Linked DNA regions of Homo sapiens: all the other regions are linked to region 1. Evidence: fine-mapped expression QTL. A gene starts in region 1. Each other region holds a variant in brackets. All regions are shown on one strand. Distances are between the middles of the regions.

Region 1 (7,810 bases):
ATGTTGTCCAGGCTGGTTTCAAACTCCTGACCTCAGGTGATCTGCCCGCCTTGGCCTCACAAAGTGCTGGGATGACAGGCGTGAGCCACCGCGCCCAGCTGGTTCTTATGACTCTGCTTTAAAATTCTTGGCAGATGATTCCAACATGTGACCTATCTTGGAATTTACATCCGTTACCTTACCATGTTCAGGTTGTGGCTTTCCTTGTTCTTGGTATGACAAGTGATCTCCAGATGTATCCTGGACATTTGGGTTACGATGTTTGCAGACTCCTTGTCCTACTCTATTCCACCAGGCAGTTGCTCTGTTCAGGTCCAGGGTGTAGATTGCAGCCTGTTTTTGTGGTCTGTCATTCCAACAGCAGTTTCGTCTTCAGAGCCCTGGCACTGCCCTCCTCGTCTGCTTTATTCTTCTGGCTCTCCTGGGACTGCTGCTCATTTCCCATGGGTGCTGCCTGCAGGGGTGAAAGGTACCTCCCTGGGCCGCCTGGTGTCACTGGGCTACCTTTTGCTGTGTCAGGACAGAACATGCTCGTTCTGGGTCTCTTTGTGCTAAGAGAGGAAGGGCAGATTTCAGGCTCCTCTGACACTACCTGTGCAGTGCAGACTGTCCACTCGAACCCCAGTTGCACAGCACAGGTTAATGCACCTGCAGCAGCTTTAAAATCGGCCCTGAAAGCAGACTGTGGGGTGAAGGTGGCAGCTACCCTCTAGGTCTCTGTTGGGCGTCCCCTTTCCCAGGGCTTTGGCCAGAGAGAGGAGGCTTTCCTTGGAGAATTTCTGTCTGTGCCTGTTGGCTGTTCTGGGCCACAGGCTTCCCTGGGGACTAGTGCAGGAACACATGAGAGAAAAAGAAAACCCAGGGGACCCACCACCTTGCTATTCCTCCAGTCCAGAGGTCTCCAGCCCGTCTGTCAACTCTCAAGCTCCTTTCCTCGTCGCCTGCTATGTGCAGGGTATTTTGTTGTATTTCAATGGGAGGAGCAAGGAAAAGTGAAGTCCCACCACCGTAATTCAAGCGCTTATTCTTTCTCGTCTTCAGCACTCACTGCCACAGCCTTCCCAGGGCTCCCGACCAATCCGTTCAACGGAAGCCAAAGGGGTCCTTGAAAAATGCAGACTCGATCTTGCCAATGCTCCCACCTTGAAATCCTCAGTCTGCCATGTTTTAGGACAGAGGCCCCCATGGCCTGGCCCCACCCATCTGCTCACTCCCTGCCTGCTCCCCTGTGACCAGGGTCAGCCTCCCTCCCTGTTTGCTACCTGAGGCTGCCGTAACAAAGCACACCAGGCTGGGCAGCTGAATGAAACAAATTTGATTTCTCAAGATCAGGGTACGGGCTGGCTCCTCTTGAGGTCTCTCTTCATGCTCATACTGCATTCTCCCTGTATGCACGTCTATCTCCAAAATTTCTCCTTTTATGAGGACAGCAGTCATATTGGATGAGTGCCCAACCTCATGACCTCATCTCACCTCAATCACGTCTGCAAAGACCTTGTCTCCAAACAGGATCACTTCCTGAACTATGGGGGTTAGGACTTCAGCATATGAATTTTGGGGAGACGCCATTCAGCCCGTAACACTCCCATGAGGCCTTTGCTCATGCTATTTCCTCTCTCTCCAACACTCCCCGTCTCCCACCTCCGCCCTTTCACCTGGCTATGTGACATGGTTTGGCTGTGTCCCCACCCAAATCTCATCTTGAATTGTAGCTCCCACAATTCCCACGTGTTGTGGGAAGGACCCAGTGGGAGGTAACTGAATAATGGGGGCAGGTCTTTCCTGTGCTGTTCCTATGATGGTGAATAAGTCTCACGAGATCTGACGGTTTTATAAGGGGGAGTTTCCCTGCACAGGCTCTCTCATTTTCTCTTTGCCTGCTGCCATCATGTAAGATGTGACTTGCTCCTTCCCGCCTTCGGCCATCATTGTGAGGCCTCCCCAGCCATGTGGAACTGTGAGTCCAGTAAACCTTTCCCTGTATAAGTTACCCAGTCTCGGCCATGTCTTTATTAGCAGCGTGAAAATGGACTAATACACTGTGTTTACTTATTCTTCATATTTCACCTCTGCTACCATTTGTTCAGGGAAGCCTTAAAAGTCTAGTTCAACATCCCTTGACACTCATTCTCTCAGGACCACCACGGTTAAACACATACTAATTTATCCTTCCATTAAGGGCTATCTCATCCTGCAAGACCCTAAGATCTGGGAGAGCAGGGACCATGGCCAGTTTCTACATCATTGTCATCCTGTCCCACATGTTGCAGACAGTGCCTGGTCAAACAAATGCCTGTTGGAGGAAACAATGAATGAAGGTTACTGAATATGCTACATAACAACTTTTCAGAAGTACTGATGGGCCGGGCGTGGTGGCTCACGCCTGTAATCCCAGCACTCTGGGAGGCTGAGGCGGGCGGATCACGAGGTCAGGACATCGAGACCATCCTGGCTAACACAGTGAAACCCCGTCTCTACTAAAAATACAAAAAATTAGCTGGGCGTGGTCGTGGGCACCTGCAGTCCCAGCTACTTGGGAGGCTGAGGCAGGAGAATGGCATGAACCTGGGAGGCAGAGTCTGCAGTGAGCGGAGATCGCGCCACTGCACTCCAGGCTGGGCGACAGAGCAAGATTCCATCTCAAAAAAAAAAAAAAAAGACGTACCGACAAACACCACCATTTTGCAACACGAAGATCAACAACAAAAAAGAAGGTCAAACTTGAAGTTCTGTCCTAAAATTACACACATTCTGCCTTTAGAAAACTCAGTGCATGGTCACAGATGAGAAGTGCCTGGCTAACCAGACTTGGGGACTCCTGGTTTGCAGTGAGTGCTGTCAAACTCGCGTTCTAGGCTGGGCTCACAGCAACTCCGACTCCAAGCTGTTTAGGCGCCTCTGTCTCCACTCAAGTCCACAGTCAAGGTCACTACTGTGAAACACTGTCTTGCTTTTAATTTCCAAGCTGCCTTGTTATTTCTTGGGAGTAGGCCAAGCTAACTTTAGGAGGAACTTAGTTTATAGTTTAACTTTGAAACAAAGATGATAACAGCCCTTTCCTGAAGCCAACCTCCTTCTTGCCTGGGGACCAGAATGCTTTTGTAAGACTAACACATGAGCCACAAGATTAGAAATTGTGGTTTGAGTCATGCAGCTAGAGGCCACAAGATTCCAAACCTCCCCAGTTGCTCCTTAGGATAACACCACTATCATCAACTCTAAGATTGGTGCTCAAGATATTTTTCAGGCTCTGCATTCTGATGCACCAGGTGCCACCACCCACACCACTAATCTGGCTCAACCAGTTCTGTGATCCCACCCAGGAACAGAAGACAGCAAGAGAATCAACTTTGACTCTCCATGGTTTCATCTCCAACCCGACCAATAAGCACTGCCCTCTCCCTGGCCCCCTACCTGCCTAATTATCCTTAGATGACCCATCTCAGGATTTTCAGAACCTGGTTTGAGCAATAAAGCTCCAGTGTCCTTTAGCCAGTTTCTGCATGCAGCCAGTTTCTGCATGCAGCCAGTTTCTGCATGCATTAAACTCTCTATTGCAATTCCCCTGTCTTGATAAATTGGCTCTACCTGGGCAGCGAGTAAGGCGAACCTATTGGGCGGCTACGCCTGAGATCTAATGACAGGCTGCACGTGAAGCCCAGACCAGGCACCTGTCTTACACCACAGGGGGATCCAGTCCACAGAACCAGCGTCCTTCCCTCCTGGAACGGACCTTCCCAAAGCCAGAGGGGCTCTAGGCGGCTCAAACAGGGGCTTCCCGGCTACCCTGGTCCCAGGCGGGACCACTCAGGTTCCTTCTCCAAGCCCCCTAGGCTGCAGGGCAGGCTTCCCTAGGGGCAGGCCCAGGCCTATAGCCCGGGACCCGCATCCCGGGCGAGCTGCACCCTCCCGAGACCTTCCCCATCTGTACAATGGGGACAGGACAAGGCCCAGCAGGCAGGCTGGCGGGGGTTCCGGCGACAGAGGGGGACAGCGGGCGAGCACGACAAGAGCACAGGCCCACGTGCGCACCGGCGGGGAGGAAGTAGCCCGGCGCCCCGCCCGCAGCGCGGACCGGAAGTGCTGCCGTAATCTGCGCTGAGAGTCGCGAAAGCGCTGTTCCCCTTAGTGACCGGCGACGCGGGCAAGATGGCGGCGCTGGGGGTGGCGGAGGCCGTGGCGGCCCCACACCCGGCTGAGGGGGCCGAGACGGCTGAGGCGGTGGAGCTGAGCCGCGCCCTGAGCCGCCTGCTGCCGGGGCTGGAGGCCGACAGCAAGCCGGGCCGGCGGCGCGCCTTGGAGGCCCTGCGGCGCGCGCTGGAGGAGCCAGGCCCTGCCGCCGACCCCACCGCTTTCCAGGGCCCCTGGGCGCGCCTACTGCTGCCGCGCTTGCTGCGCTGCCTGAGCGACCCCGCCGAGGGCTGCCGCGCGCTGGCAGTGCACCTGCTGGATCTGGGCCTGCGCCGCGCCGCGCGGCCCCGCGATGCCCTGCCGCGCCTGCTGCCCGCGCTCGCCGCGCGCTTGGCCGGCCCCGTGCCCGCGCGCCGCCCGCCCGAGGCCTGTGAGGAGCTGCGCCTGGCGCTTGTGCAGCTGCTGGGCCTGGCCGTGGACCTGTGCGGCGCCGCGCTCGCGCCCCACCTGGACGACGCTCTGCGCGCGCTGCGCTGCTCCCTGCTCGACCCCTTCGCCGCCGTGCGCCGCGAGAGCTGCAGCTGCGCCGCCGCCCTGGCGCAGGCCACGCCCGGTGAGCACCCCGGGCCCCGCTCCCACACGCCACCCCACACTCTCACCCCCACCTCCACCTCCGCGGCCCCTCTCACAACCCCCGCGGCTCGGCCCCGCCCCCCTCCACGCCCGCACCCCCCAACATCCCGGACCCCCCATGCGCCGCTTCCCCCACCCGCCTGCCCCAAAGCACCCCGCCCGGCCCCCTCCTCCCACCACCACTGCTTCCCCTGCCTCACGTCCCGCCACCAACGCGCCCTTCAGCTGCTCCCTTGTCCTCTACCCCCATGTACCTGTTTCCTGCGCTGCCACGTGCTCCTTGCCCCGTGACCCCTGTTCCTGCTTGGCCCTCACTCACCTCACTCCCCTGTCCCCTTGCTCCCCGCCTCCACCCTCCACGCCCCAAGCCCCGCCCCCCACCTGCCTGCTCCCTGTGCCCCCTCCACCTGCCTATCCTGTGCCATCCTCCTCCTTGCACGCCGCCCTCCCGCGACCCTCACCTCCCACCCTCCTCCCTGCCTGAGCCCCCTCCACCCCACCCGGGCCCACGAGCCAGCGCTTCTGTCCAGATACCTGGAAACCACCGCAGAAATTCCTGTTAGGCGGTTTGGGGTGGGGTGTGCCCTGATAGCTGCCCCCTTTCCTTCCCTCGGGGGCTTGCAGGACTTGCACCTGGTTGAGGGCACGCGCTTTGAGACTCTGCTCTGGTCATTTCACTTTCTGTCCCATTCATCCTACTCCCCTGCCTTTCCGCTCTGGCTTGGACCACTGTCCTAAGTGGAAGGAGGCCGCTTCTCCCCTCCACTTTATAACGTTCCCCATCTTTTTTAGAGCTCTGATCTGATCCGGTCGTTCCCTTTCCTTAGCTGGCCATTCCTGCAGGGTCTTGCCCTTTCCCTCCCCTGGCTGGGATGTGGAATGATAGCAGGCGCCTGCTTCCTGCTGGCGGGAAGGCTTTCCGAAGGAGGGAACACTGATGCTATAAATCCGTGGGCGGTAGGGAGCAGGAAAGCAGTGAGGGATCTGGCCAGCTCAGGCCGTCCCAGTGATGTCCCAGTGATGGTCTGAATGTAGTGGGAAGTGCAGGGGGTGTCAATAGAAGTGATAGACCCGAGTTCAGGTTGTTAAAAGATCACTGCAGCTGCGTGGAGAATAGATTCCAGAAGTAGAGGAAGAGCTGGACTTGGGGAAATGCCGAGATTTCCACGTTGGTTAACTTTGGATTTCACATGGTCCAGAACTCCTGTGGAGCTTGGGGAAGAACCTTGGGCTGGATGGACATGGCCATTGAGAATTCCTGGCATTTAATGTATTTCTTCTTCATCCTCAACCACTTCCCTACCCAGTCTGTACATCAGCCCCACGAGCTCCCTCCCTGGACCGTAGGTTCCACAGGACAGCACTGTGCCCATCTGTGCCCCAGCCCCAAGCGCAGCCTGCTGGGGTATGTGCTCACTGGTTGCTGTGGGGTGAGGGACTGTGCCTCTGCCTGGAGCATCCCCTCATCTCCAGCACCTCTGGCCTTCCTCTCCCCTGGGTGGGGGGCCTCACCTCTGGTCTCGGTCACACTGGGCAACGGCAGAGAGGTTGAGGCGCTCACCCAAAGTCTCACTGGAATAGCCGTTTCCCAGACGGGCCCCAAGTAGTGCAGAGCTGAGGCAAGAGGCGGCCTGGATGCCAGAGACCCTTTGGTTCTGACTTTTTTTTTTTTTTTTTTTGAGACAGGGTTTCACTCTGTCTCCCAGGCTGGAGTGCAGTGGGGCGATCTCAGCTCACTGCAACCTCCGCCTCCTGAGTTCAAGCGATTCTCCTGCCTCAGCCTCCCAAGTAGCTGGGATTACAGGCGCCTGCCACCTCTTGTTCTGACTTTCTGCGGGGACTTTACAAATAGGAAGTGCAGTGGCTTTGCCTGGAGTGGTGCTGGCCCAGCTTCCTGGAGGAGCCTGGGGTCTCGTCTCAGGTGGGGCTGGGAGTGTGGCCTCGCCTCTGTCTTCTGGGCTCGGCTTCTTTCCTCTGGCCAGTGTCCCCGTCAGGCCTCCACCTTGGCTTCAGCAGGTCCAGGCTCTCTGGTCTTCAGCCACAATGGGTTTGCACCCCCAGCCTTTCCCCGCTGGTCCTCCTAAGCCTCTGGGTTGCACAGGTGTCATCAGGGTGGGACGCTTGTCCCTGAGCCTCTTCCTGTGCCGGGCGGTACAGAGCTCTCCTTGGCAGCCTGGATTGTGTACTGTTCATGCAGCAAGGACCTGGCGTAGGAGAGGAAGGGAGGTGAGGAACTCATAGGCAGGCAGCCGTCCTCTGGAAGCCCACAGAGCTGGGCGAGGCGTGTGGGAGCAGCTCTGGTAACTGGGGGCCTCCCTGTCCCTCAGACCACTTCCACATGCAGTCGGAGTCTCTGATCGGGCCCCTGATGCAGACCATCTCCCACCAGCACTGGAAGGTCCGTGTGGCCGCCATTGAAGCCACAGGCGCAGTGATCCATTTTGGCAACGGGAAGTCCGTGGACGACGTGCTTTCCCATTTTGCTCAGCGACTGTTTGATGACGTCCCGCAGGTAACTGGTGTTTCTCCTGGACAGTCTGTTCCTCTCTCCAACACAGGCGGGCTGACGTGCTGTTTTTAACTAACTCACTTGTTCTTTTTTCAGAGTGCTGTATGCACCAAATGTCCTTTCATTATTCCTAGTCACAGGACGTTCCTGTTCACATCTTGGAAAAACTAGAAGAGAGCTGAACTGTTTTAATGTTTGATGTTATGAATTCCAAGGATGTTAGAAAGGATGACTTGTGTAGTTATTGTCTCTTAGGCACAGTGTGCACTTCAGCAGTTGCAGAAGGTTCCTTAGTGCTCCCATCCATCAAGACGCACTTTCCCGAAAAGCCACCATGGTTGGTGGACCTGGACTGGGAGAAGAGTGGAGTCGGGGTTGGTTTGTTGGGGATAATTATGTCGTTGGGCTTTGGAACCCACCAAGAGACGGGCAGGCAGGCAGGCAGGAGTCCTACAGATGGGGCTGAGTGTTGGCTTTACTGCTGGCAGAATCTGGCCTGGAGGGCATGTCTTGGATCTGAGGCCCCAGTGACTTGCT
Region 2 (7,810 bases), 23 kb after region 1:
GTGTGTGCACATACATGTACACATGTACATACACATCCTGCCCTACCCCGCCAACTGTCTGGCCCTGCTAGTAGGTTCCCGGAAGGGGCTTCCTCCCTGTGGTGGAAACACAGGCTCTTTGGAGGCTGCCTGATTTAGAATTGGTTCAAGGACTTGGGAATGTTCCTGACTGATAATTACAAAAACACAGTTAGTTATCCGTGCCGAGGCGTAGAGAGTGTCGTTAGGCACAGAACTTTTGTTTCAAGTGGAGCAGAGTAAATTTAGAATTGAATGACAGTCAGTCAGTCGCATAAGCACTACGTTGTGTTAGATTTTTGGCATTTTCTCCTCAAATTACTTTTCTCCAGTCTGTAGATTTGAATTTTAAATACGATTTCTCAGATTTTTTTCTACAGTATTTTAAATGTCAGATCAGAAGATTTTTTGAGTCTCTTCCTCAGAAGTTTGCACTGGCCCTGTATTGCCAAGCACACACCCTCCCTGCCGTCCTGCCACCCCCCGCCTGCCGTGCCCAGGGTCTGTGACGCTCTCCTTACTGTCTTGCCCCCCCCTGCCCGCTGGGCCCAGGCTCTGTGTCCTCACTTTCCCCCGCCCGTCATGCCCAGGGCCTGTGACGCCCTCCTTACCGTCCTGCTGCCCCCCACCCAACATGCCCAGGGCCTGTGACGCCCTCCTTACCGTCCTGCTGCCCCCCACCCAACATGCCCAGGGCCTGTGACGCCCTCCTTACCGTCCTGCTGCCCCCCACCCAACATGCCCAGGGTTTGTGACGCCCTCCTTACCGTCCTGCCCTGTCCAGCGTCTGTGTCATCCCTTTCCCCCGCCCGCCGTGCCCAGGCTCTGTGTCGTCCCTTTTCCCCGCCCGTCGTGCCTAGGGACTGTGACGCCCTCCTTACGGTCCTGCCACCCCCCACCCACCTTGCCCAGGGTCTGTGACGTCCTTACCATCCTGCCACCCCCTGCCCACCCTGCCCAGGGTCTGTGATAGCCCTTCCCCCGGGACCACGCTGCATTCACCCTTCAGGGCTGCAGCTCTGTGAGTTTTGAGCAGCACCGCCTCTGTCCCCTGCATGTGGGCATCTCCACCGCCCAGAACTGCTCATGGGCCCTGGCACTGCTGCTGTGGGCTGCGTCCTGTGTGTCCCTTCCAGGATGTCACTTGCATGAGGTTGTGGGAGCGTGGCCGCTGGCGTCTGCTCTTTCCTCTCTGTGTCGGAGGCTCATGCATGGCACCTGTGTCTGCAGCACTTTCCTTCTTCGCGTGAGTCACGTTCCCTCCCGTGGATGGACCATCTGGTCACCAGCAGGGGCATATTCGGGTCCTTTCTAGTTTTTGGCCATCACAGGTAAAGCTGATGTAAACACTTGCAGACTGGTTTTTGTGAGAGTGTTTTATTGGATAAACACTCAGGCGTGGGGTTGCTGGGCCATAGGTACAGTCCTTACTTTGTTAGAAACTCACCACACACTGTTTTCCACACCCTTCGCGCCATGTCGCATCCCCACGGGCACTGGATGAGATTTCCAGGTGCTGCAGTCAGGCCAGCGTGTGGGGTGGAGTTTGCTGTTTTTAGTGTGTCGGTTGGTGTGCAGTGTTGGCACACGGTGTTGGTGTCCAGTGTTGACACACGGTATTGGGGTTTGCTGTTTTTAGTGTGTCCAGCTGGTGTGCAATGGTGGCACAGGGTGTTGGTGGGGTTTGCTATTTTCAGCGTGTCCGGCTGGTGTGCAGTGGTGGCCCACGGTGTTGGTGGGGTTTGCTGTTTTTACCGTGTCTGGCTGGTGTGCAGTGTTGTCACACAGGGTTGGTGGGGTTTGCTGTTTTTAGTGTATCCAGCTGGTGTGCAGTGTTGTCACACAGGGTTGGTGGGGTTTGCTGTTTTTAGTGTGTCCAGTTGGTGTGCAGTGGTGGCCCACAGTGTTGGTGGGGTTTGCTGGTTTCAGTGTGTCCGGCTGGTGTGCAGTGGTGGCCCACGGTGTTGGTGGGGTTTGCTGGTTTCAGCATGTCCGGCTGGTGTGCAGTGGTGGCCCACGGTGTTGGTGGGGTTTGCTGGTTTCAGCGTGTCCGGCTGGTGTGCAGTGTTGTCACACAGGGTTGGTGGGGTTTGCTGGTTTCAGTGTGTCCAGTTGGTGTGCAGTGGTGGCCCACGGTGTTGGTGGGGTTTGCTGGTTTGAGCGTGTCCGGCTGGTGTGCAGTGGTGGCCCACGGTGTTGGTGGGGTTTGCTGGTTTCAGCGTGTCCGGCTGGTGTGCAGTGTTGTCACACAGGGTTGGTGGGGTTTGCTGGTTTCAGTGTGTCCAGTTGGTGTGCAGTGGTGGCCCACGGTGTTGGTGGGGTTTGCTGGTTTGAGCGTGTCCGGCTGGTGTGCAGTGGTGGCCCACGGTGTTGGTGGGGTTTGCTGGTTTCAGCGTGTCCGGCTGGTGTGCAGTGTTGTCACACAGGGTTGGTGGGGTTTGCTGGTTTCAGTGTGTCCAGTTGGTGTGCAGTGGTGGCCCACGGTGTTGGTGGGGTTTGCTGGTTTGAGCGTGTCCGGCTGGTGTGCAGTGGTGGCCCACGGTGTTGGTGGGGTTTGCTGGTTTCAGCGTGTCCGGCTAGTGTGCAGTGGTGGCCCATGGTGTTTTACTTTGCGATTCCCTAATGAGAGGACATTGGGGCCTTTTCCTGTGCTGTGGTGTGCTTCTGTGCACCCGTACGTCGTCTTTGGTGGCCATTCAGAACTGCCATCCATTAAATCGAGTTCTGTGTTTCTGAGTGCGGAGTTTGAGGACCCCTTCCGTGCTCTGGATGCAGGTCCCTCATCAGACTGTTTTAGGCTCCACAGCCAGGCCTCAGCTCCAGCTCCCGCTCCTCTCCTCAGAGCTCCGGCAGCTGCCGCCCCCATCCCCCCTGCTCTGTTTCCTCCTGCCCCCTACCACAGTGGAGGTGCTCCTTCTCCTCGGTGGACTCGGGCCCTGTGCTCACCTCACCGCTCGCTCCAGGGGCCAGTCTGTCTGCTGCCATCCTCTGCACCCAGAGGCGGTGAGCCAGGCTTAGTGGCTCTGTGAGCACCCAGCGAGCTGATGAGTGGCTGCGTGTCCTGTCTTACCAGCAAGAACGGACAGTCCAACCGTGTGGTTGGGTTGCCGAGTGCGTGAACAGGCAAAGTTCGGTAATATTTTCAGACCACTGCTAATGCAGACGGTGCTCAGAGGTAATGACCTATCAATAAGGAATTCACATGGGCCTGGATCTGAAGTTTCATCAGAGTCCAGTTTTCCTGTTTCCTAAGAAAATAAGGTACACACCATGTGGAAATATAATTCGTACCATATAATTTGTTGTTAGCTTTGCAGACACAGCGTAAGTTTCCATTAACAGCACTGAAACCTCCGCCTTAAAAACCAAGCTTCGTGCTGGGAGGGTTGGGAGGGCACCACTTACCGTCCTCAAGTCGGTCATTTCCCTGAACAGAGTGCCCTTCTCACACGGAAGCACACGTTCACGCCTGGTGTGTATCTGACAATCACACTGCCAGCCGCCAGCAGCAGATGGCTTGGTGACAGCGGCTCCAGAGTCCTTTCTGCTTTGAGATTATCCCTCTGTTAAGATTGTTTTCCTTGGCAATGCCTGAGCGTAAAGGAAAGCGTCTCGATGCTGGTGAGTGGCCGGCCAGAGCTTTTCACACAGGAGGACAGAGTTGGCTCTTCTTAAAGCCTGACTTAGAAGTGAGCAGGGTTCCCTGTGGATGAACGCTGCCACGTGACAGCCTTCCCCCTTCATTCTCCTGTTCTGCCTTGGAGCTCGCACCCATTCTGCTTTGCTTGTGTGTTTCATCCATGTGTTTGGAAAGATGGAAGCTTGAATGGAAATTGTCAGAAACGTTACGTTGTGCAAATGGGCTGGAAAAGCTGGTTAACATTGTTTGAAGCCAGCAAGGTCCCACGAGCATTGGCCCACTCTGAGTTAGCCGGGGGTGTTACAGAAGAAGGAACTTCTTTTTCTTTTTTTGAGGCAGACTTGCTCTGTCACCCAGGCTGGAGTGCAGTGGTGCGATCCCAGCTCACTGCAACCTCCGCCTCCCAGATTCAGGCAACTACTGTCCTGCCTCAGCCTCCCGAGTAGCTGTGATTACAGACGCGCACCACCGCACCTGGATAATTTTTGTGTTTTTAGTAGAGACAGGGTTTCACCATATCAGTCAGGCTGGTCTCCAACTCCTGGCCTCAGGTGATCCACCCGCCTTGGCCTCCCAAAGTGCTAGGATTACAGGTGTGAGCCACGGTGCCCAGCCTATGTCTGCTATAATATTAAGTATAGAAAAACAGGCTTCAGAACCATGTTCAGAAGCATGTGCTGAGTAACAGCGTTTGAGTCCATAAGGACCACGTGGAGGAGGGTGGTCCCCTCTGATAGTAACATTGTGTTTCTCCTTTTTCTGTGTTTGGAAACACTCACTCACTGTCTGTGCTACAGTTTCTGCGTGTTGAGTGCAGTCACCTGCTGCACAGGTTCGTGGCCTAGGAGCCTCACAGGCTATATCGCACAGCCCAGGCAT[C/T]GCACAGCCAGGCACGTAGGAGGCTGCGCCATCTAGGCTTGTGTACGTCACTGTAGTACGTTCACACGGCAACGAAATCACCCAATGACGTGTTTCCCAGAACGCACCCCCCACCGTTCAGCAACGCTTGACTGTACCAGCGGTCCCCTGCCATTTTGGCACCAGGGACTGGTTTTGTGGAAGACAATTTTTCCATGGGTGGGGCAGGGAGCAGGGTGGTTTCAGGTTGAAATTGTTCTACCTCAGATCATGAGGCATTCAATTCTCATAAGGAGCACGTAACCCAGGTCCCTCACACGCACAGTTCACAGGAGGGTTTGCCCTCCCCTGAGAATCTCATGCCGCCACTGATCTGACAGGAGGTGGAGCTCAGGCGGTCACACTCCTTCACCATCTGCTCACCTCCTGCTGTGGGGCCCAGTTCCTAACAGGCCTTAAACCAGTCCCAGCCTGTGTCCAGGCCTTGCGTACCCCTGCCCAGCACCGGCCAGTATTTCTTTGGAAACACCCAGAAGCCCAGGTGCCCACAAAGCTCTGTTCAGCTGTCAGCAGACCCCTCCCCGGCTGTTCCTGGTCACGCATCTCTCATTTTGCAAACTTTCCAGAGCGGATCGTCATCAGGAAGAAAGGTGCAGCTGGGCGTGGTGGCGCATGCCTGTAATACTGAGGTCAAGAGTTCAAGACCAGGCTGGCCAACATGGTGAAACCCCATCTCTACTAAAAATACAAAACTTAGCCAGGTGTGGTGGCATGCACCTGTAGTACCAGCTACTCAGGAGGCTGAGACATGAGAATGGAGAATTGCCTGAACTCAGGAGGTGAAGGTTGCAGTGAGCTGAGATCGCACCATTGCACTCCAGCCTGGATGACAGAGCGAGACTGCATTTCAAAAAAAAACGAAGAGAGGTGTGTTTGCACCCTGGCTTTTTTGTTTTTTACAAAATGATGACAGGATCATTTAAACAGCCAGCAGAATTTTAATTATTTGGAACTAATTCCATAATACAGGATAAAAACAGAAAAATAACCAGAAAAAGGTTAAAAATGGGGTGTCCTGGTACAAGCTGTTCTTATTAAAACATACCCTTTAGCCTGGATGCAGTGGCTCACACCTGTAATCTTAGCACTTTGAGAGGCCGAGGCAGGAGGGTTACTTAAGCCCAGAAGGTCAGTGCTGCAGTGAGCTGTGATCGTACCACTGCACTCCAGCCTGGGTGACAGAGTGAGACCCTTTCTCTAAAAATAGAAAAAGACCCTTTAAATCCTGACATATCATGGTTTCATTTCTATCTTTACAGTTGTTCTGAATTTTTTTTTTTTTTTTTTTTTGAGATGGAGTCTCACTCTGTCGCCCAGGCTGGAGTGCAGTGGTGTAATCTTGGCTCACTGCAACCCCCACCTCCTGGGTTCAAGTGATTCTGCTGCCTCAGCCTCTGAGTAGCTGGGATTACAGGCGCTCGCCAGCACGACCGGCTTATTTTTTCTATTTTTAGTAGAGACGGGGTTTCACCATGTTAGTCAGGGTGGTCTTGAACTCCTGACCTCAGGTGACCCGCCTGCCTTGGCCTCGCAAAGTGCTGGGATTACAGGCATGAGCCACCGTGCCCGGCCTGAATTTTGAAGATCAGAATCTTTTCATCAAAGTCCCTGAAGGCTTTTCTGTAGAAATCGACAAACTGATTGTGAAATTCTCGTGGGCGTGCAAAGGACCCACAGCTGCCGAAACACTGGGGAGGAGTGAAGCTGAATGGCAGCAGGTCCTGGGTGCAAGACTCACAAAACCACAGTCATGGGGCCACGTGGTGTTGGCTTTCAGACCGATGAGCAGAACGAGAGCGTCCAGAAACAGGCGCCCGCACGCGGACCACTGACTTGATGAAGGCTCAAAGACCATTTAATGGCATCTTTTAATAAGGATACTGTAAATGATAGGATCACTCATACACCAGAAAGTGAACTTGGAGTCAAAAAATTAACCCCAGATGCGTCAGGGATCTGAAGGTAAAGCCCAGAACCGCAGAGCTAGGGCGAAGCCTTTGTGACAGTGGGCCGGGCCACACTTCGTGGGATACGTCCTCAAAAGACCGCAGAGTGATGACGAAGCCTTTGTCACCGCGGGCCGGGCCACGCTTCCCTGGGTGCATCCTCAAAAGACTGCAGAGTGACGACGAAGCCTTCGTGACCACGGGCCGGGCCACACTTCGCGGGATACGTCCTCAAAAGACCACAGAGTGATGACGAAGCCTTTGTCACCGCGGGCCGGGCCACGCTTCCCTGGGTGCATCCTCAAAAGACTGCAGAGTGACGACGAAGCCTTCGTGACCGCGGGCCAGGCCACGCTTCCCTGGGTGCATCCTCAAAAGACCGCAGAGCTAGGACGAAGGCTTCGTGACCGTGGGCCGGGCCACGCTTCCCTGGGTGCGTCCTCAAAAGACCGCTCTGTAACAGGGTAAAGCAATGTGTGGACTTCATCAAAATGAACACTTCTGCTTTTTCAAAGGCCTGTTGAAAAAACGAAAAGACAAACCAAAGACTGAGATGTTTGGAGATGATGTATGTAAGGATTTATCTCCAGAGTATAGGAAGAGCTCTTGAAACTCAGCAGGAAAACAATCCATTTTTTTAAATGGGCAGAAAACAATTTGGAAAGACCCTTTACCAGGGAAGATAGGCGGCAAACAAGCCTGTGAAGAAGACGCTCGGCGTCGTTAGTCATCGGGGAATGCAAAGGAAAAGCACACGGAAATGCCACTGTGCCTCTCGGACTGCTTTCAATTCAAGACTGAGCGTACCGCGTGCCGCTGAGAGTGGGAAGGAGCGCGGACTGGCTCAAACACTTTGGAAAATGGTTGGACAGTTTCTAAAACAGTTAAACGTGCACCTTCCCTGTGGCCCAGCCCTTCCACAGCTGGTATTTGTCCCGGCACAGTGAAAGCCCAGGCCACACAGACTTGCCCTGGACACCATTTGAATGCTTCTCCACAGAGGAGCGGGCACTAAACTGGCATCTCCCCAGAACAGGCCACTTCCCAGGTTCAGAAAGGAGCGGGCACAGGCGGGCCTCAGAAAACGATGCAGAGTGAAAGAAGCGGAGAAGGGAGGAGAGTGAACGAGAGGCTTCCACTTGTGTCAGGCTCTAGAAAGTGCAGCTCAGTCACGGGACAGATCCAGGGGTGCCGGGGTGCCTTGGGGGCTGCAGTGCAGAGGAGCAGAGGAAGCCGGGCGAAGGACGCAGCTGTCACCCCCACCATGCCGATGGCTTCGCAGCCGTGT
Region 3 (7,810 bases), 35 kb after region 1:
GGCGGCCGTGCCATGCAGGGCGGGCCTCAGCTCACCCCTGGAGGCACTTGCTCCGGCTCGATCGTTTCCGGCGGCTTCTATGGCCCCAAAGCTGGCCTGGGGCACGGGGACTTGCCACTGTGCTCTCAGCCCGGCCTGTCCTGTGTCAGGCTCCCTCTCCGTCCTCAGAACGAGAGGTGGGGCTGTTGACAGTCATTTTTGTAAACTGTTTTAAGAAACCTGTAAGCAGTTCCTGGAATACATAGAGGGAAGGAAACGGAGCTGGGGTAAGGAAGGGAGCGGGGGAGGGGCCCGGGCCGCGTGCTCATGGCATTTCAGCCATGCTTCAGCTTTTCCCAAAACCCGTTTTTAACACATCATCGAATGTGTGTCAGTTCTCCACTTTCCTTCACCCACGAGGGGTTATGAGGATGCCTTTGATTTCTGTATACAGATTTGCAAGCCAGAAGCATTTTTTCCTAGAAGGGCATAACTTGAAAATGTGCACAGGTGCCTAAATCCTTATCTCACAAACTTTATAGCAAAGAAAGTGTAGTTTTCACATCTCCATGTTGGTTACAGGAAAACGGAATTGTGTCATCCCACAGTTGTGCATTTGGCTCCCCATCTTCCAGTTTTATCGAGGAAAAATTTAATCACAATCTTTCAAACAGAGACGTCTTTCTGACAAAGTCCAGTCACACGGGACCCCTGGGAAGCCAGCCTCAACCTTCCAGGCTGCGAACGTGTGTCGGCCCTTTGGCCAAGGAGCCAGTCACAGTGAAAACCCAAGACGTACATTTCACTCCTTTCTTGTTTTTATTTTTTTGTTTTAGGTTGATCCTCCCACCTCAGCCTCCTGAGTCACTGGGACTACAGGTGTGCACCACCACACCTGGGTAATTTTTTTTTATTTATTTTTATTTATTTACTTTTTGGGACAGAGTCTTGCTCTGTCACCCAGGCTAGAATGCAGTGGCGCAATCTTGGCTCACTGCAGCCTCCGCCTCCCAGGTTCAAGCGATTCTCCTGCCTCAGCCTCCCAAGTAGCTGGGATTACAGGCATGCACCACCACACCCGGCTAATTTTTGTGTTTTTAGTAGAGACGGGGTTTCTCCATGTTGGCCAGGCTGGTCTTGAACTCCTGACTTCAAGTGATCAGCCCACCTCGGCCTCCCAAAGTGCTGGGATTACAGGTGTGAGCCACCGCACCTGGCCCCATTTTACTCCTTAACAGACTTAAATTTTTGGCAAGAAAGGGTGAAGGTACTCAGGTCTCAGTCAGAATCAGGCCCGTGGTTCTGTGCTCTTCCCACGCCCCTGTGCTCTTCCCGCGGCCGGCCGGGCTTTGTGTCATGTCATTTGGGAAGTCGATTATGTTTCCCACAGCTATTCTCCAGTAGCTATGAGAACAGGTTGAAAATGTCTTTCAAGAACAAACCGAAATTGTTTTAAAAGCTCGTGTTTAAACAGAGAAGTCCGTGTAAATGTATTCTAAACTGAGCCTGGCTTCACTCCCTGCCCTGGGGTTCACAGGAAATCTGGCTTTAGCAGTAGGTACTTCCAGGTGTCTCGGGCCCAGTAGGTCCCCTAGAGCTCGACAGACGGGAACTGGAGTCTCCTGGGAAGGAGTTTAGGACAGGTGTCTAGAGTGAGGAAATGGGTAACTCACCGATTTGCTTCTCACACAGGGAAGCCAGCAGTTGTGGGATGCCATTGCCATTGTTGAAATAGGAGTCTCTTGTGCTTTTCTGAATTAAAAACCTTTGCAGTCTTAGATAACATTGTTTCAGAAAACAATGTTTGAAATAGTATTTCAAAAAATACTGAGAATTATTTCCTGCTGTATCTTTTTTCTTTTTCGTTCTGTGTGTGTGCGTTGTATGTAGGCAGACACTGAAAATTGTCTGGTCAAATATAGAGAAATCTATAAATGTGAAGTCTTGTCACTTCCTCAGAGACGGTGCTGCGTTCGTGGCAGGAGGGTGGTGCTTGCTGCAAAGGATGCCTGATTCCCTGTTTGTTCCTGTGCTTGGAGGTGTGGTCAGCCAGGAGGGGCTGTGTCTTCTAAACGCACCTGCCTTTTGATTTTAACCGAAAAGATGATCGCTCCTGAAATGTACATGACAGGTCATTCTAGAAACTAGCCAGATATTGTCCTCAGAAGTCAGCCAGTTAGTACAGGCCTTAGAGAAATTGGGCTGTGGGAAAAATCAGGAATGGAATAAAAACAAATCTGTGGCTTCTGTGGGAGTTGGGGCCACGACAGGGCCACACGGCTCCTCCAGCTCCGAGGGAGACGGGGCCGCGCGGCTCCTCCAGCTCTGAGGGAGACGGGGCCGCGCGGCTCCTCCAGCTCCGAGGGAGATGGAGCCATGCAGCTCTGTGTCTTCTGTGGGTCAGGGCGGGGCCGGGGTGCAAGGACAGAACGCTGCTGTAGTACAGTGGGAGTGTTTTGTTTAGTCTTCCATGATTTACGTCAGTGGGGAATGAGGCTTAGAGTTTTAGAGCTGATTAGGAAATTTAGAACCAACCCATTGTCTAGCCAAATAATTACCAAACTTCTTTGAACTTGCACCCCCATTAGTAAAAACAGTTTTTAAGCATAGGCCTCCAATATATGTACACTGTTGATAAATCACGTGTTTAAATTACATGGCCACGGTCCTGACTCACTCTGTACTTTATGAAACATACATAAAATAGACATTAGAGGGACGTTATAAGAAGTAAATACAGGCCAGGCGTGGTGGTTCTTATCTATGATCCCAGCACTTTGAGAGGCCACGGCAGGAGGATCACTTAAGGCTAGGAGTTTGAGACTGCAGTTAGCCACGATTGCACCACTGCACTCCAGCCTGGGCGACAGAGCAAGACCCTGTCTCTAAAAAATAAGTTAAAATTTATTTAGAAAGAAGTAAGCACACGCAAAGCCTTAGGAATTCTTGGGTCCAGCACACGCCTGCTGTGTTGCGGGCTTCAGAGCCTGGCTGATTCACAGTGGATGAGGCTGGAGCCGGGAGGGGAAGCCATTCATCCAGCGCAGCCGTAGGTGCAGAGCTGAGACTCCACCTCCCCGTCAATCAGTAAACATGTTAAGCCATAGAATTTTATTTGTCTTAAAACTTGGTGTTATAGAAAAGCTCAAAAATGCACAGAAGAGGGGCAGGCAGCAGAGCGACTGCCAGCTTCAGCGCTGACCAGCCCTTGGCATGCGTGTTCTGCCTGCCTGGGGCCACTTTTCTTTTTAACTTTGGAGGGCGGGGAGAACTTGGGCATGTTGTAAAGCAGATAATGCAGTGCGCCGTCATTTCCCTCACAGGTGCCGTGTGCATCACTAACGCAGCTTCTCCACCACATAGCTCAAGTGCCTGTTCACATTTCACAAAATAAGCACAGATTCCTTAGCTCCCAGTCTGTGTTCAGTTTTCCCATCAACAAGCACGCCCTTTTATGGTTGACATGCCGGCACCCTACCTCCAGCGCCTGGGGGCTCTCCCTGCAAGGGCTCTCCCATGGCTGCTGCCCCTCGTGAGCCGTAGACTAGGAGCCCCGGGCGGGCTCTGTCGGCCCTGACACTGGGGCCGGAGCGGGAGCCCTGTATTAGTCCATTCTCATGTCGCTAATAAAGATCTACCACAGACTGGGTAATTTATAAAGAAAAAGAGGCTTAATGGACTCAAAGTTCCACATGGCTGTGCAGGCCTCACCATCATGGTGGAAGGCAAAGGAGGAGCAAAGTCACGTCTTACGTGGCGGCAGGCGAGAGAGTGTGCAGGGGAACTGCCCTTTATACTAACATCAGATCT[C/T]GTGAGACTTAATATCAAGAGAACAGCACGGGAAAGACCCACCCCCATGATTCAGTTCCCTCCCACAGGGTCCCTCCCAGGATACGTGGGGATTATGGGAGCTACAGTTCAAGATGGGATTCGGGTGGGGACACGACCAAATTGTACCAAGCTCTGACGGTGCTGCCGGTCTCTTCCAGGACCTCTACCTGGAGCGCCTGCTGCTGTGTGTGCAGGCTCTGGTGTCTGTGTGTCATGAGGACTGTGGCGTGGCCAGCCTGCAGCTCTTGGACGTGCTGCTGACAATAGTGGCCCTCGCAGGTGCTACCGGCCTGAGGGACAAGGTAAGGCTGACAGTGGTGGCTGCTGCTTGACCTAGCGGAGCTCACAGCTGGAAGGCATCTCTAAGTGAGGTGAACTGTCTCCTATGCATCCCCTCTGTGCTTGACCAGCAAAGACCAGGGATTGAGAACCTTGCGGGTGAGTCCCCGGGCAACGGCCTTCGGGGCAGCTCTCCAGCTGCCAGTGTATTCTGGCATCAGGGAGTGGAGACAGCTGTTTAATGTTAGGGTCTTCAGCAAAGAAGCAAACAAGAAATAAGACGTAACCTTTAAACCTGCGCACTTGAGTAGGGTTTAATAGTGCACATGTCGCTGGGCGTGGCATCTCACGCCTGTAATCCCAGCACTTTGGGAGGCCGAGGTGGGCGGATCACCTGAGGTCAGGAGTTTGAGACCAGCCTGACCAACATGGTGAAACCCCGTCTCTACTAAAAATACAAAAAATTAGCCAGGCGTGTTGGCATGTGCCTGTAGTCCCAGCTACTCAGGAGGCTGAGGCAGGAAAATTGCTTGAACCAGGGAAGCAGAGGTTGCAGTGAGCCAAGATCGTGCCACTGCACTCCAGCCTGGGCTGAGCAACAGAGCGAGACTCCGTCCAAAAAAAAAAAAAAGTGCATGTGCATGTGTGACTGAGTCGAGAGAAGATACCGTGATTTCCCGCTCTCATTGCAGCACAGCGTTCAGAAGTACTTCTCGCCCATGGGCTCCCTGTTTATGCCCAAAAATCATCTTTTTTCTTCAGTGGAGTCTCGCTCTGTCACCCAGGCTGGAGTGCAGTGGCGCGATCTCGGCTCACTGCAACTTCTGCCTCCCAGGTTCAAGTGATTCTCCTGCCTCAGCCTCCTGAGTAGCCGGGATTACAGGCGCCCACCACCATACCCGGCTAATTTTTATATTTTTAGTAGAGACAAGGTTTTGCCACGTTGGCCAGGTTGGTCTCAAGCTCCTGACTGCAGGTGATCCACCTGCCTCAGCCTCCCAAAGGGCTGGGATCATAGGCATGAGCCACCGCACCTGGCCATTATGCCCAAAAATCTTTTAACCCCAACCTTCTAATGGGCTTCTAGGGCCCCTGGAGGCCCCAGTATCTGTCTGCCTCTCTGGAAGCTGAGACTTAGTTCCTCCTCCCATTCTGTCTCTGTGGACAGCCCCTCTCGGCAGATTCTCTCTCTGGGAGATTTACGGCCTGAATGTACTATGGGGAACCTGGTGTGGAGGAGGCTGCTGCCCTCCCCTTCCTTCTTGGGGCCTCTAAAAACAAGCTTCCCAAGGGGCGTGTGTCTCAGCAGATGCTGTCACTGTTAGGGCCTGAGGTACCAGCAAAAGCAAAGTCTTTGCCTGCTGGTCATGGGGGACGAAGCCAGGTAGCCCCAGATTCAGACTCCAGGCTTGGGGCAATGGCCACCGGGGAGCCTCAGCCCTTCCTCTGTTCCTAAGCCCCCAAGGAGAGCAGCCAGCTAAAAGTAAAAGGTGGCCAAGGTTATCATCTCTGTCTGCCCAGTTACTTTTACCTGGAGGTCTGGTCTGCTGGGCTTAACTCTTTAAGCCACTTGCCCGCCCCTCTCTGCTCCTCACCACCTCAGAGGAGCCCTGCCTGCCCAGGCGGACACCACGTCCGTGTAAGCCCCAGGACCACCTGTGCTGTGTGCATCCCAGTGTGCACAGTGCCTGCTTCATGATTCGCTGCAGAGACGGCGTTGGTGTGAACGGGATCAGGGTCTCGCCCTGCACCCGCGGCTCTCGCTCTCCTGCACCCTGGGCGGGGCTCCCTGTGGCAGCCTCCCTCCCGATTATCCTGGCAGGCCCGGCCTGTGTGGTTCTTACGCGTGAGGGGGATAGTGAGTCCCAGCAGGCAGGCAGGCTTGAGCCCTGAGTGTTGGAATTGTCTCAGTCTCTGACTTGTAACCTCCAGGCACAGGAGACGATGGACTCACTGGCCATGGTGGAGGGTGTCAGCAGCTGCCAGGACCTCTACCGCAAGCACATTGGTCCCCTCCTGGAGCGGGTGACCGCGTCGCACCTTGACTGGACCGCACACTCGCCGGAGCTCCTGCAGTTCAGTGTCATCGTCGCACAGTCAGGTGAGCCGTCCCGACAGCTGGCGTGCCGTGCCTGGCCCCACTCAGGCTACACACCTGCTCCCCCAGGTGCTCAGCAGGTACCAGCGCCGACCAGCTGAGCTGTGGTTCACTGAAGCGTGTTGTTAAAAGTACCCAATAGTCACTCTTGCCTGGGGAGAAGCAGCATTTTAAGGAGCATCGCATTGAAGACTGTGGGACGCAGCTCTTCCACTTGGCCCGGGCACACGCTTTCATGTGAAACCTTCAAAGTGTGCTTTTCCGTGGCCTGTTTTGTAGCCTGGCTTCTTAAATACGTCTGGATTTTGTTGCAGAATCTAGATGTCTAGCCGCATGGGTGCTGTGTGTGTGACATGGGGGCCTTAGCCCCAGCCCCTCTGAGACCAGCATTTCTGTGGTTCTCTTTGAGCCTGCGGATCAGCCACTTTTCCTGGGATGGACAGTGTGGCCCAGTGGGGCTTCAGCGCGGGGCAAGATCCACTGCAGAACCCTAAGGAGACGTCCGCTCAGCAGCCATAGTGCCTTGGGACACACGGCCCGCGCTGCTCCACGGGCCGTGAACTCGCCGCGGTAGCTCTTCCTCGTTTGCCTCCCCGGCCCTCCCGCTCCCGCCTGCAGCTCCGAGTGCCCCCGCCTCCTGTTGGATGTGTGCACCAGGGTGGTCGTGCTCTGCATCTGAGGATGCTAAGATCGTTCTTACACAATCTCTGTGCCTGGTAGGGACTCACCTTTTTTTTCCTGAGACTTGGAAAAATACCCAAAATTGTTCTTTGTCAGTTGCATTCAAAACTGTTTCCAAATTAGAAAAGAAAATACTGGCTGGGCGTGGTGGCTCACGCCTGTAATCCCAGCACTTTGGGAGGCTGAAGTGGGAGGATCACTTGAGCTCAGGAGTTCGAGACCAGCCTGGCCAACACGGCAAGAGCTCATCTCTACAAAAAGATGAAAAAAACCGCACGTGCACCTCTGAATCTAAAATTTAAAAATAAATAAAATACAGTTAGCCAGGCGTGGTGGTGTGCGCCTGTGGCCCCAGCTACTCAGGAAGCTGAAGCGGGAGGATCCCTGGAGCCCAGGAGTTCGAAGCTTCAGTGAGCTGTGACTGCACTGCTGCACTCCAGCCTGGGCAACAGAGCAAGGCCCTGTCTCTAAAACCAAACAAAAAACAAAGCTGGCGATTGCTGACGTGCACTCGGGGCATTAAACACTTTATGCCAGACGCTGCTCTGCAAGCCTTAGGGCCGTCAGCTCATCTACCCTCACAGCCGGCCTGTGTGGTGGGAACTGTGACCCCGTTTCACAGACAAGGAGGCAGAGCACAGAGAACTCCCGAGGCAGCGACTCCAGAGCCTCCCTCAGCCCCTCTCCCACGGGCCTCTTGGATGGGGGCCCAGGGTGTTGCATTTCAGATTTTTACTGAATGTTACTCCTAACAACCTCTTGCACCAAATTACTCCAGCCTTCACCTCACAGTCCAGAAAATTGGGCACACAAACCCCGAGAGACGTGGCTTGCAGTGAAGCCAGGACTTGCATTTACTGCAGCTCTGGTGGCTTCTCCACCATCTGTTCTTCCTCTTTGCAGAAGCATTTCTTATGGTGTTGGCGGAACTGATTGGCAGCT
Region 4 (7,810 bases), 27 kb before region 1:
GCTACTCACAGTCGCTCTGTGATCGGCAGGTGCAGGGATGGTTTTGGGGCTGAAGACGTGGGATCAGAGGTGGCCGGCGAGAAAGGCAGGATGATCTCTGCCAACCGCAGCCCAGAATGTGCCCCAGAATCGAGTAACCCAGCCCTGGGGATTGTCCTGGTCCTGTCCCGTCCCACACGGGGATGAAGTACAGACGTCCAGCCCAGAAAAGAAAATATCTGGGCGGGTCCTGGGGTCGGGGTGGAATCTAAGAGAGAGCCCCGTGCCGGTCAGGAAGGGGTCAGTGGTGCTGCCTTCCCAAGCCTAGACTTGTGAAGCGCCATCTGAATTACGATGACCTCGTGTTCCATGATGGAGACTGCAGTGGAGGCAGAAACAGTTTCAAGTGAGATGGGCGAGGTCACAAGACAGAGCCCACTGGAGTCTGCAAGCTACAGGAATTGTGACCAAATAAAGTGCCTCAGCCAGCCACCGGTGGGGTCAATAGGGCTTGTTTTTTTTGTTTTTTGTTTTTTTTTTGAGACGGAGTCTCGCTCTGTCGCCCAGGCTGGAGTGTAGTGGCGTGATCTCAGCTCACTGCAAGCTCCGCCTCCCGGGTTCATGCCATTCTCCTGCCTCAGCTTCCCGAGTAGCTGGGACTACAGGTGCCTGCCACCATGCCCGGCTAATTTTTTTGTATTTTTAGTAGAGATGGGGTTTCAGCGTGTTAGCCATGATGGTCTCGATCTCCTGACCTCGTTATTCACCCCTCTTGGCCTCCCAAAGTGCTGGGATTATAGGCGTGAGCCACTGCGCCCAACCCTTTTTTTTTTTTTTTTTTTTTTGAGATAGGGTCTTTCTCTGTCACCCAGGCTGGAGTATAGTGGCGTGACCATAGCTCACTGCAGCCTCGACCACCCAGGCTCAAGCAATCCCTCCATCTCAGCCTCCTGAGTATCTGGGACCACAGGTGCACCACCACCAGTATGCCTGGCTAAATTTTTTTATTATTATTTGTAGAAATGGTGTCTTGCTATGTTGCCCAGGCTAGTCTCAAGCGATCCTCCTGTCTTGACCTCCCAAAGTGCTGGGATGACAGGCATGAGCCACAGCACCCGGCCCCAATGGAACTTTTTTTTTTTAAAGAAAGATGGAGTTTCACTCTTGTTGCCCAGGCTGGAGTGCAGTGTCGCGATCTTGGCTCACTGCAGCCTCCGCCTCAAGGCTTCAAGCAATTCTCCTGCCTCAGCCTCCCGAGTAGCTGGGATTACAGACATCAGCCACCACACCTGGCTAATTTTTGTATTTTTAGTACAGACAGGGTTTCACCATGTTGGCAAGGCTGACCTCTCAAACTCCTGACCTCAGGTGACCCACCTGCCTCCATCTCCCAAAGTGCTGGGATGACAGGTGTGAGCCACCGCGCCCGGCCTCAATGGGACTTAGCTTTTGAGATCCATGCTAAAAGTAGTTTACTTCATAGAGGAGAGACTGGCCCAGGGCCTCACGGCTCCGGCAAGGACCCTGGGCTCTCCCTTTGCAGGAACCAGAAGCCGCTTCTCTTCAAGGAACGAGGTTGGGGTCCCAGTCTCTTGGCTGAAAGAGCTTTGCCTGTCCAGGCTCGACGGGACTTCCCATCTTTGGCAGGTGAAGAATCAGACTAGGCAGGATACAGGTGGTTCCATACACACAGGCCGCTTCAGGAGGCCTTGGGAGAAAGGGGGACAGCGAGCAGGGCCCCTCCCCAGGGCTGCATGGGGGTGACCTCTCACGGGCTCTGCCTGTGCACATGCCAGGCTGCTCTTCCCCTTCCCCTCTTGGGATTCCGGGAAAGCCTCTCATTTTGCAGCCCCCACTTCCTGTCTCCTGTTTTCATACTGATGCATTGTCTGAGCTGCAGGACGGTCGAGGTCGTGGGGCCGGGACAGGCTTTCCAGGCCAAAGCCATCTTCGTAACAACACTGTGGGAACAGGGTTTCCAGAAAGCTCCGTGGCCAGAATGTGCCCCAGAATCGAGGAACCCGGCCCTGGGGATTGTCCTGCTCCTATCCCGTCCCACAGAGGGGGATGAAGTGCAGACGTCCAGCCCAGAAAAGAAAATATCTGGGCGGGGCCTGGGGTGGGGGTGGAATCTAAAGAGATTTCCTAGACCCAAGTTTATCCTCCCGAGAGAAGCCTACACGCAGGGATTACAGGCAGATGGAATTCCTCAGTCCTGCCTGCGGCCCGGTTCTCGCTCCTGTGGGGACACAGCCTGCCCCGTCCCACTGAAAGGGTTTTCTGAGAGGCGGCTGATCCACCCCGCCTGATGCCTTCAACGGAGGGCGTCTAGGCTTCCACGGGGTCATCCACTGCGTGCCGGGCAGGCATGAGTGGTGTTTCTGGACCACCTCCTCCGAGCAGTTCCATGAGCGGCCCTAAGACAGCCCCTCTGCACTCTGTGAAACCCTAAATCTCAAGCGCCAGTTGTATTTGAGGACCAGGGGTCTCCAGGAGAGGGCTCACATGGTACCAACCCCAGGCCAGGACCCATAAGCCCACCTAGCAGCGGCAAATCATCCCCAGCCATGAGGCGGGGAAACTGAGGCCCAGAGAGGGTAAAGGATTTGTTCAGGGGAACCCAACCATTCAGTGGCAAGGTTGGAAGAGAAACGCAGGTCTTCAATCATTTACTGAGCACCTATTGTGTACCAGGCCTCACATAGAGAGTATAGCAAACAAGGGAAGGCGAAGGAAAGGAGAAAAGAGAAGGGAAGAGAAGGGAAGGGAAGGGAGGGGAGGGGAGGGGAGGGAAGGGAAGGGACGGGAGGGAAGGGAAGGGAAGGAAGGGAAGGGAAGGGAGCGGAGGGGAGTGGAGGGGAGGGGAGGGGAGGGAAGGGAGCGGAGGGGAGGGGAGGGGAGGGAAGGGAAGGGAAGGGAGGGGAGGGGAGGGAAGGGAGCAGAGGGGAGGGGAGGGAAGGGAATTAGAAATTAACAGGCTGGGCAGGGCACCATGGCTCATGCCTGTAATCCCAGCACTTCGGGAGGCCAAGGCAGGTGGATCACCTGATGCCAGGAGTTCAAGACCAGCCTGGGTCACATAGGGAGACCTCATCTCTATAAAAATATTAAGAAAATTAAAAATTAAATTAATAAAATAAAAATAAAAATAGAAGATGAAGATGCAAGTCCCAGTGAGGCTAGGGGCAGAGTGTACACAGGAGGGTGTGAGCACAGGCGAGAGCCCTGCTCACCCTCAGAAGCAGATGGCATGACTCTATGTGTGCACATCTAGGAAAGTACGTGTGCATGTGTGTCTAGGTAAGTACGTGTGCGTGTGTGCATATCTAGGTACGTATGTGTTAGTGTGTGTCTAGGTAAGTACGTGCGTGAGCATGTGCACATATGTGTGAACATGTACATATCCAACTAAGTACATGTGTGTGCACATCCAGAGAGGTACATGCATGTGACCATATGCACATCTAGTTAAGTACATGTGTGAGCGTGTACACATGCATGCAAACACACCCCTTACATCCACCACTCTCGGAGTAAACTGAGTATGTCCAGGTGTGCGCACAGCTATGCATCTGGGTAAGTGCGTGTGTTTTAATGCATGTGCACACACGACTCCACGTACCCTCCTCCTCGGTGGCAACAGTACATCCTTGCCTGTGTGTGCATGTGTGTGCATCTGGGCGAGTGTGTGTACATGTCACTCACACACACTTGCACTCACTCCCTCACCCACCATGGCGGCTGTCTCCCCACCCCACCTCTCCCCACGCAGCAGCAGCAGCTGGTGATTCAGCCTCTCCCTCCTGGAGGGCAGCACCCCAGCTCCAGCCTGCCACACACAGGGGCACCAGCCTTGCAGGGCAAAGGCGGAGAAGCCTGAGTTCCTAGGACGGAGGATGAGAAAGAAGCAGAAGGGGGGGTTCCACCATCAAAGCCAACCCCAGGAGAACCCTGCACCCTGCCCCAGCACGCCAGGGGCCAGAGCCCACAGGCAAGGTGGGAAGGGTGTGGCCTCAGAGGCATGCCTGGGTTTGCGCCCAGCTCCATGACTCTCCCTGGCTGATGGTGGGGAACCCACGTTCTCTCTCCAAGCACCCGTTTTCTCATTTGTAAGATGGGAATGTAAATATCTCATCTGGCCAGGCCTGCGTGAGAATTCGATGAGATAAAGTATGCAAAGCACCACGTGCCATATCTCGGTGTTCCTGCACTGGGAGGCACTGAGTCCCAAAGCAGGAAGGCACTGACGGTTAGGGCCCCTCCCAACGCAG[G/A]AACAGCCGGGGTAGGAAGGGCAGAGGTCACAGCTGGAGGAAGGAGTGGGCAGTTACCCCCTCAGTCCATCACACACTGTCATGCTCACCAAGTAGTGAGCTAGGAGGGCCAGAGGACACTAAAGACCCTCCCTCCCTGCAGAGCTGGGACTTGGGGTTGAAGCTCAAGCCGAGATCTCCTCCTCTGAGCTCACCCAAGACAGGGTCGTGGTGAGAGGCTCTCTGAGGAAGCAGCCGTGGCCCTAAAGCAAGTGCTGAAGAGCGGCCAGCTGCAGGAGGGGTGGGGAGGAAGTTCCAGGTGACAGGACAGTGCTGGCCGGAGCCCGTGGGTGGCCATGGGCTGCAGTGGAGAGGCAAGCAGGAGCCAGACCCCGTGAGGCAGGAAGGAGCTTAGATTTGTTAGGAGAGCACTGGAAAGGTTTGGGAAGGTTTTAAGAAGGGGGAGCAGTTCAATTTGTGTTTCTGGAAGATGGCTCCAGCTGTGACTGATATGGAAAATGGAGCTCGAGGCCCGATGGGAAGCAGAGAGGCTGCTGCAGTCATTCAGCCGAGGGGACAGCGGCGTGGGCGGGGGAAGGGGCGGCAGGGAGAGAAACAGGCATATCTGTGTGCCAGAGGTAGGATCTCTCTTGCATGGAGAATGTGAGAGAAACCCCAGAGGAGAAAGGACAAAATGGGGGTCCCCGAATTCCATGAACTGATACGAGTGTGAGGTTCAACCCCAAGTTTCGTATGCACAGAACACAGAGAACCACAGAAAAGGTGCTGAGGACTGAGCTGCAAGCAAAACAATGTCCAAGTCCCAGACCAGCCCCCAAGCGACCCACACAAGGGTGCGCCCAAGCAGCACCCCAAAGGCTTGGAAACGGAACTCATGTTGGCATCGTCACCCACCAAGGATGAGAGAGAACTTGCAGCATGGACCTCGTCAATTGATTTCCTGCCAAAACAAACAAAAATATCAACATTCTCTCTCCATAGGATTTTAATGGGATTCAAAGCTTGACAACATAATATAGAAAATGTCCAGGATATAATCCAGTTCCTTGACAAATTATTCAACATATCAAGAACTAGGAAAGTCTGGCCAGTTCTCAAAGGAAAAGACAACCCATGGCTGACAAGCTTCAGATGCTAGAGATGACGGGATTATCAGGTTAACACTCTAAAGCAGCAATTTTAACTATTTTCCATGAAGTGAAGGTGAATACTCTTGGAATTGGTGGGGGAATCAGCAAAGAAATCAAATTTATTTAAAAAAAAAAGGAAGAAGAAAGGAGGAGAAGGAGAACAGGAGGAGGAGTAGGAAGAGGAGGAACTACCAAATAAATTTAGAACTGAAAAATAAATACAAATTTTAGAACTGAAAAATAAAGTAACAGAAAATCTTAAATTCACTAGATGGGATCATTTGCAGAATGGATATGACAGAGGAAAGACCTTGTGAGTTTGAAGAGAGATCAACAGAAATCATCCCACCAAAAGGACAGGTGGGCAGGGCATCGTGGCTCACGCCTGTAATCCCAGCACTTTGGGAGGCCGAGGTGGATGGATCACCTCAGGTCAGGAGTTCGAGAGCAGCCTGGCCAACATGGCTGAACCCCATCTCTAAGTAAAATACAAAAATTAGCTGGGCATGGTGGTGCGCATCTGCAATCCCAGCTACTCGGGAGGCTGAGGCAGGAGAATCTCCTGAACCCAGGAGGCAGAGGTTACAGTAAGCCGAGATCGCACCACTGCACTCCAGCCTGGGCAAGAGAGCGAGACTCTGAAAAAAAGAAAAGAAAAGAAGGAAGGAAGGAGAGAAGGAGGGAAGGAGGGAGGGAAGGAAGGAAGGAAAGAAAGAAAGAAGGAAAAAAGAAAGAAAGAAAGAGAAAGAAAGAAAGAAAAAGAAAGAAAGAAAGAAAAGAAAGAGAAGAAAAGAAAAGAAAAAGAAAGAAAGAAAGAGATTTAACAGAGCCTCAGGGACTTGCGGGAAAATATTTTAAAATCTAACATTCATGTCACTGGAGTCCCTGAAAGACAGGAAAAAGAGATTGGTACAGAAAAATATATTTGAAGACATGATGGTTGAAAACTTCTCAAATATGTTGAAAGGTATAAATATTCAGATTCAAGATCAAAGGAAAACAAGAGAAACTCAAAGAAAATCAAACTCAGACACATTGTACTCAAACTCTGACAAACTAAATACACAGGGAAAATCATGAAAGAAGCCAGAGAAAAGAAACATAAAGCAAATGAGGGTTCAAAAGGCTGATTTGTCATCAGAAACCATAAAGAACAATGGGAAGACATCTTTAAACTGCTGAAATAAAATCACTCTCCACTCAGAATCCTGTATCTGTAAACATGTCCTTGTCCTTCAGGAATGAAGGCAAACCAGAGAGATTCTCAGATGAAGGAAACTGAGAATCTGTCACCAGCAATCCTGCTCTAAGAGGAATGCTAAAGCGAGTTCTTCAGGCTGGTGGGGGAAATGATCACAGAGGGAAAGAAAAACACTTCAGGAACCACGGAAGAGTGACAGAAATGGGAAATACCCAGGTACATCTTCTAGACTATTTGCCCCTCTTAAATTACTGAAAATACGTGAAAGTGTTAAAAGTAAAAATTATAACATTGTCAAGGGAGTGGGGGAAAGTTCAACATGTGTAAAGATGATACGTACAACAACCAGAAATAATAAGGGGAAGGTAAATGGGCCTATGTGATGGAAAACTTGTATGTTTTACTTGAAATGGTAAAATATCAACTCTAAAAAGTCTGTGTAAAGTTATGTATGTATATTATAATGCCTATAGCAATCACTTAAAGAAAAACAGTAAAAAAGACAGTAAGTACTAAAAAATAATCAAATAATCTAAAAGAAGGAAGGAAAAAAGAAACATAGGAAAAAAAACAGAGAAAACAAATAGAAAAATAATTAAATGGTAGACCTAAATCCAACCATATCAATAATTACATTAAATGTACATGATCTATACATGAGGTAAGATATATAAAAGTAACCATCTTAAAAAATAATGGTTGAAAACTTGCCAAATTTCTTGAAGGACATAAATTAACATCAAGATTTGCAAAGGGAAACCAGACAAACTCAAAGAAAATCATATTAAGATGCATCATAGGCTGGGCGTGGGGCTCACACCTGTAATCTCAGCACTTTGGGAGGCCGAGGCAGGCGGATCACGAGGTCAGGAGATCGAGACCATCCTGGCTAACACGGTGAAACCCTGTCTCTACTAAAAATACAAAAAATTTGCCGGGTGTGGTGGCAGGTGCCTGTAGTCCCAGCTACTCGGGAGGCTGAGGCAGGAGAATGGTGTGAACCCAGGAGGCGGAGCTCGCAGTGAGCGGAGATTGTGCCACTGCACTCCAGCCTGGGCAAACGGGGCAAGACTCCGTCTCAAAAAAATAAGTAAATAAATAAATACATAAATAAATAAATAAAGATGCATCATAATATATACTATACTATATATACTATATGTACTACATATATAGTAATAAACAGTATTTTCTTTTTAAAAAGTGGATAATCTAAACACACCAATTAA

Direction of the effects. Alleles are on the strand shown, and positions count from the first base shown. SD is a standard deviation of normalised expression in the study named. Not every link is listed here.
In carriers of allele C in region 3, the expression in uterus of the gene that starts at base 4,128 in region 1 tends to be lower than with T alone (small effect, 0.34 SD a copy in GTEx).

The links. PIP is the estimated chance that this variant, and not a neighbour inherited with it, causes the effect.
Region 2: its variant is the best candidate, but not a certain one, in a credible set for the expression of DNAAF5 in whole blood (TOPMed, PIP 0.55).
Region 3: its variant is the best candidate, but not a certain one, in a credible set for the expression of DNAAF5 in uterus (GTEx, PIP 0.65).
Region 4: its variant is the best candidate, but not a certain one, in a credible set for the expression of DNAAF5 in gastroesophageal junction (GTEx, PIP 0.81).

Annotation. Positions count from the first base shown.
Region 1 is chr7:722,572-730,381 of GRCh38, forward strand. It overlaps DNAAF5 (dynein axonemal assembly factor 5), which reads left to right and starts at 4,128. Exons shown (of 13, transcript NM_017802.4): 1 at 4,128-4,744; 2 at 7,092-7,276. The coding sequence starts at 4,150. It overlaps PRKAR1B (protein kinase cAMP-dependent type I regulatory subunit beta), which reads right to left and starts at 4,710. Exons shown (of 11, transcript NM_001164760.2): 1 at 4,639-4,710. RefSeq lists silencers at 4,201-4,400, 4,651-4,700, 4,761-4,870, 4,911-4,990.
Region 2 is chr7:745,726-753,535 of GRCh38, forward strand. The region is part of intron 4 of DNAAF5 (dynein axonemal assembly factor 5); the gene reads left to right. Among named protein-coding and RNA genes, the nearest start is that of PRKAR1B, 22 kb to the left of the region's middle. RefSeq lists an enhancer at 6,100-7,299. The variant C/T (reference allele first, on the strand shown) is at 4,538.
Region 3 is chr7:757,785-765,594 of GRCh38, forward strand. DNAAF5 (dynein axonemal assembly factor 5) reads left to right here. Exons shown (of 13, transcript NM_017802.4): 7 at 3,969-4,112; 8 at 6,022-6,190. Among named protein-coding and RNA genes, the nearest start is that of PRKAR1B, 34 kb to the left of the region's middle. The variant C/T (reference allele first, on the strand shown) is at 3,790.
Region 4 is chr7:695,163-702,972 of GRCh38, forward strand. All of the region lies in intron 2 of PRKAR1B (protein kinase cAMP-dependent type I regulatory subunit beta), which reads right to left. Among named protein-coding and RNA genes, the nearest start is that of DNAAF5, 28 kb to the right of the region's middle. RefSeq lists enhancers at 1,251-1,751, 1,752-2,252. The variant G/A (reference allele first, on the strand shown) is at 4,251.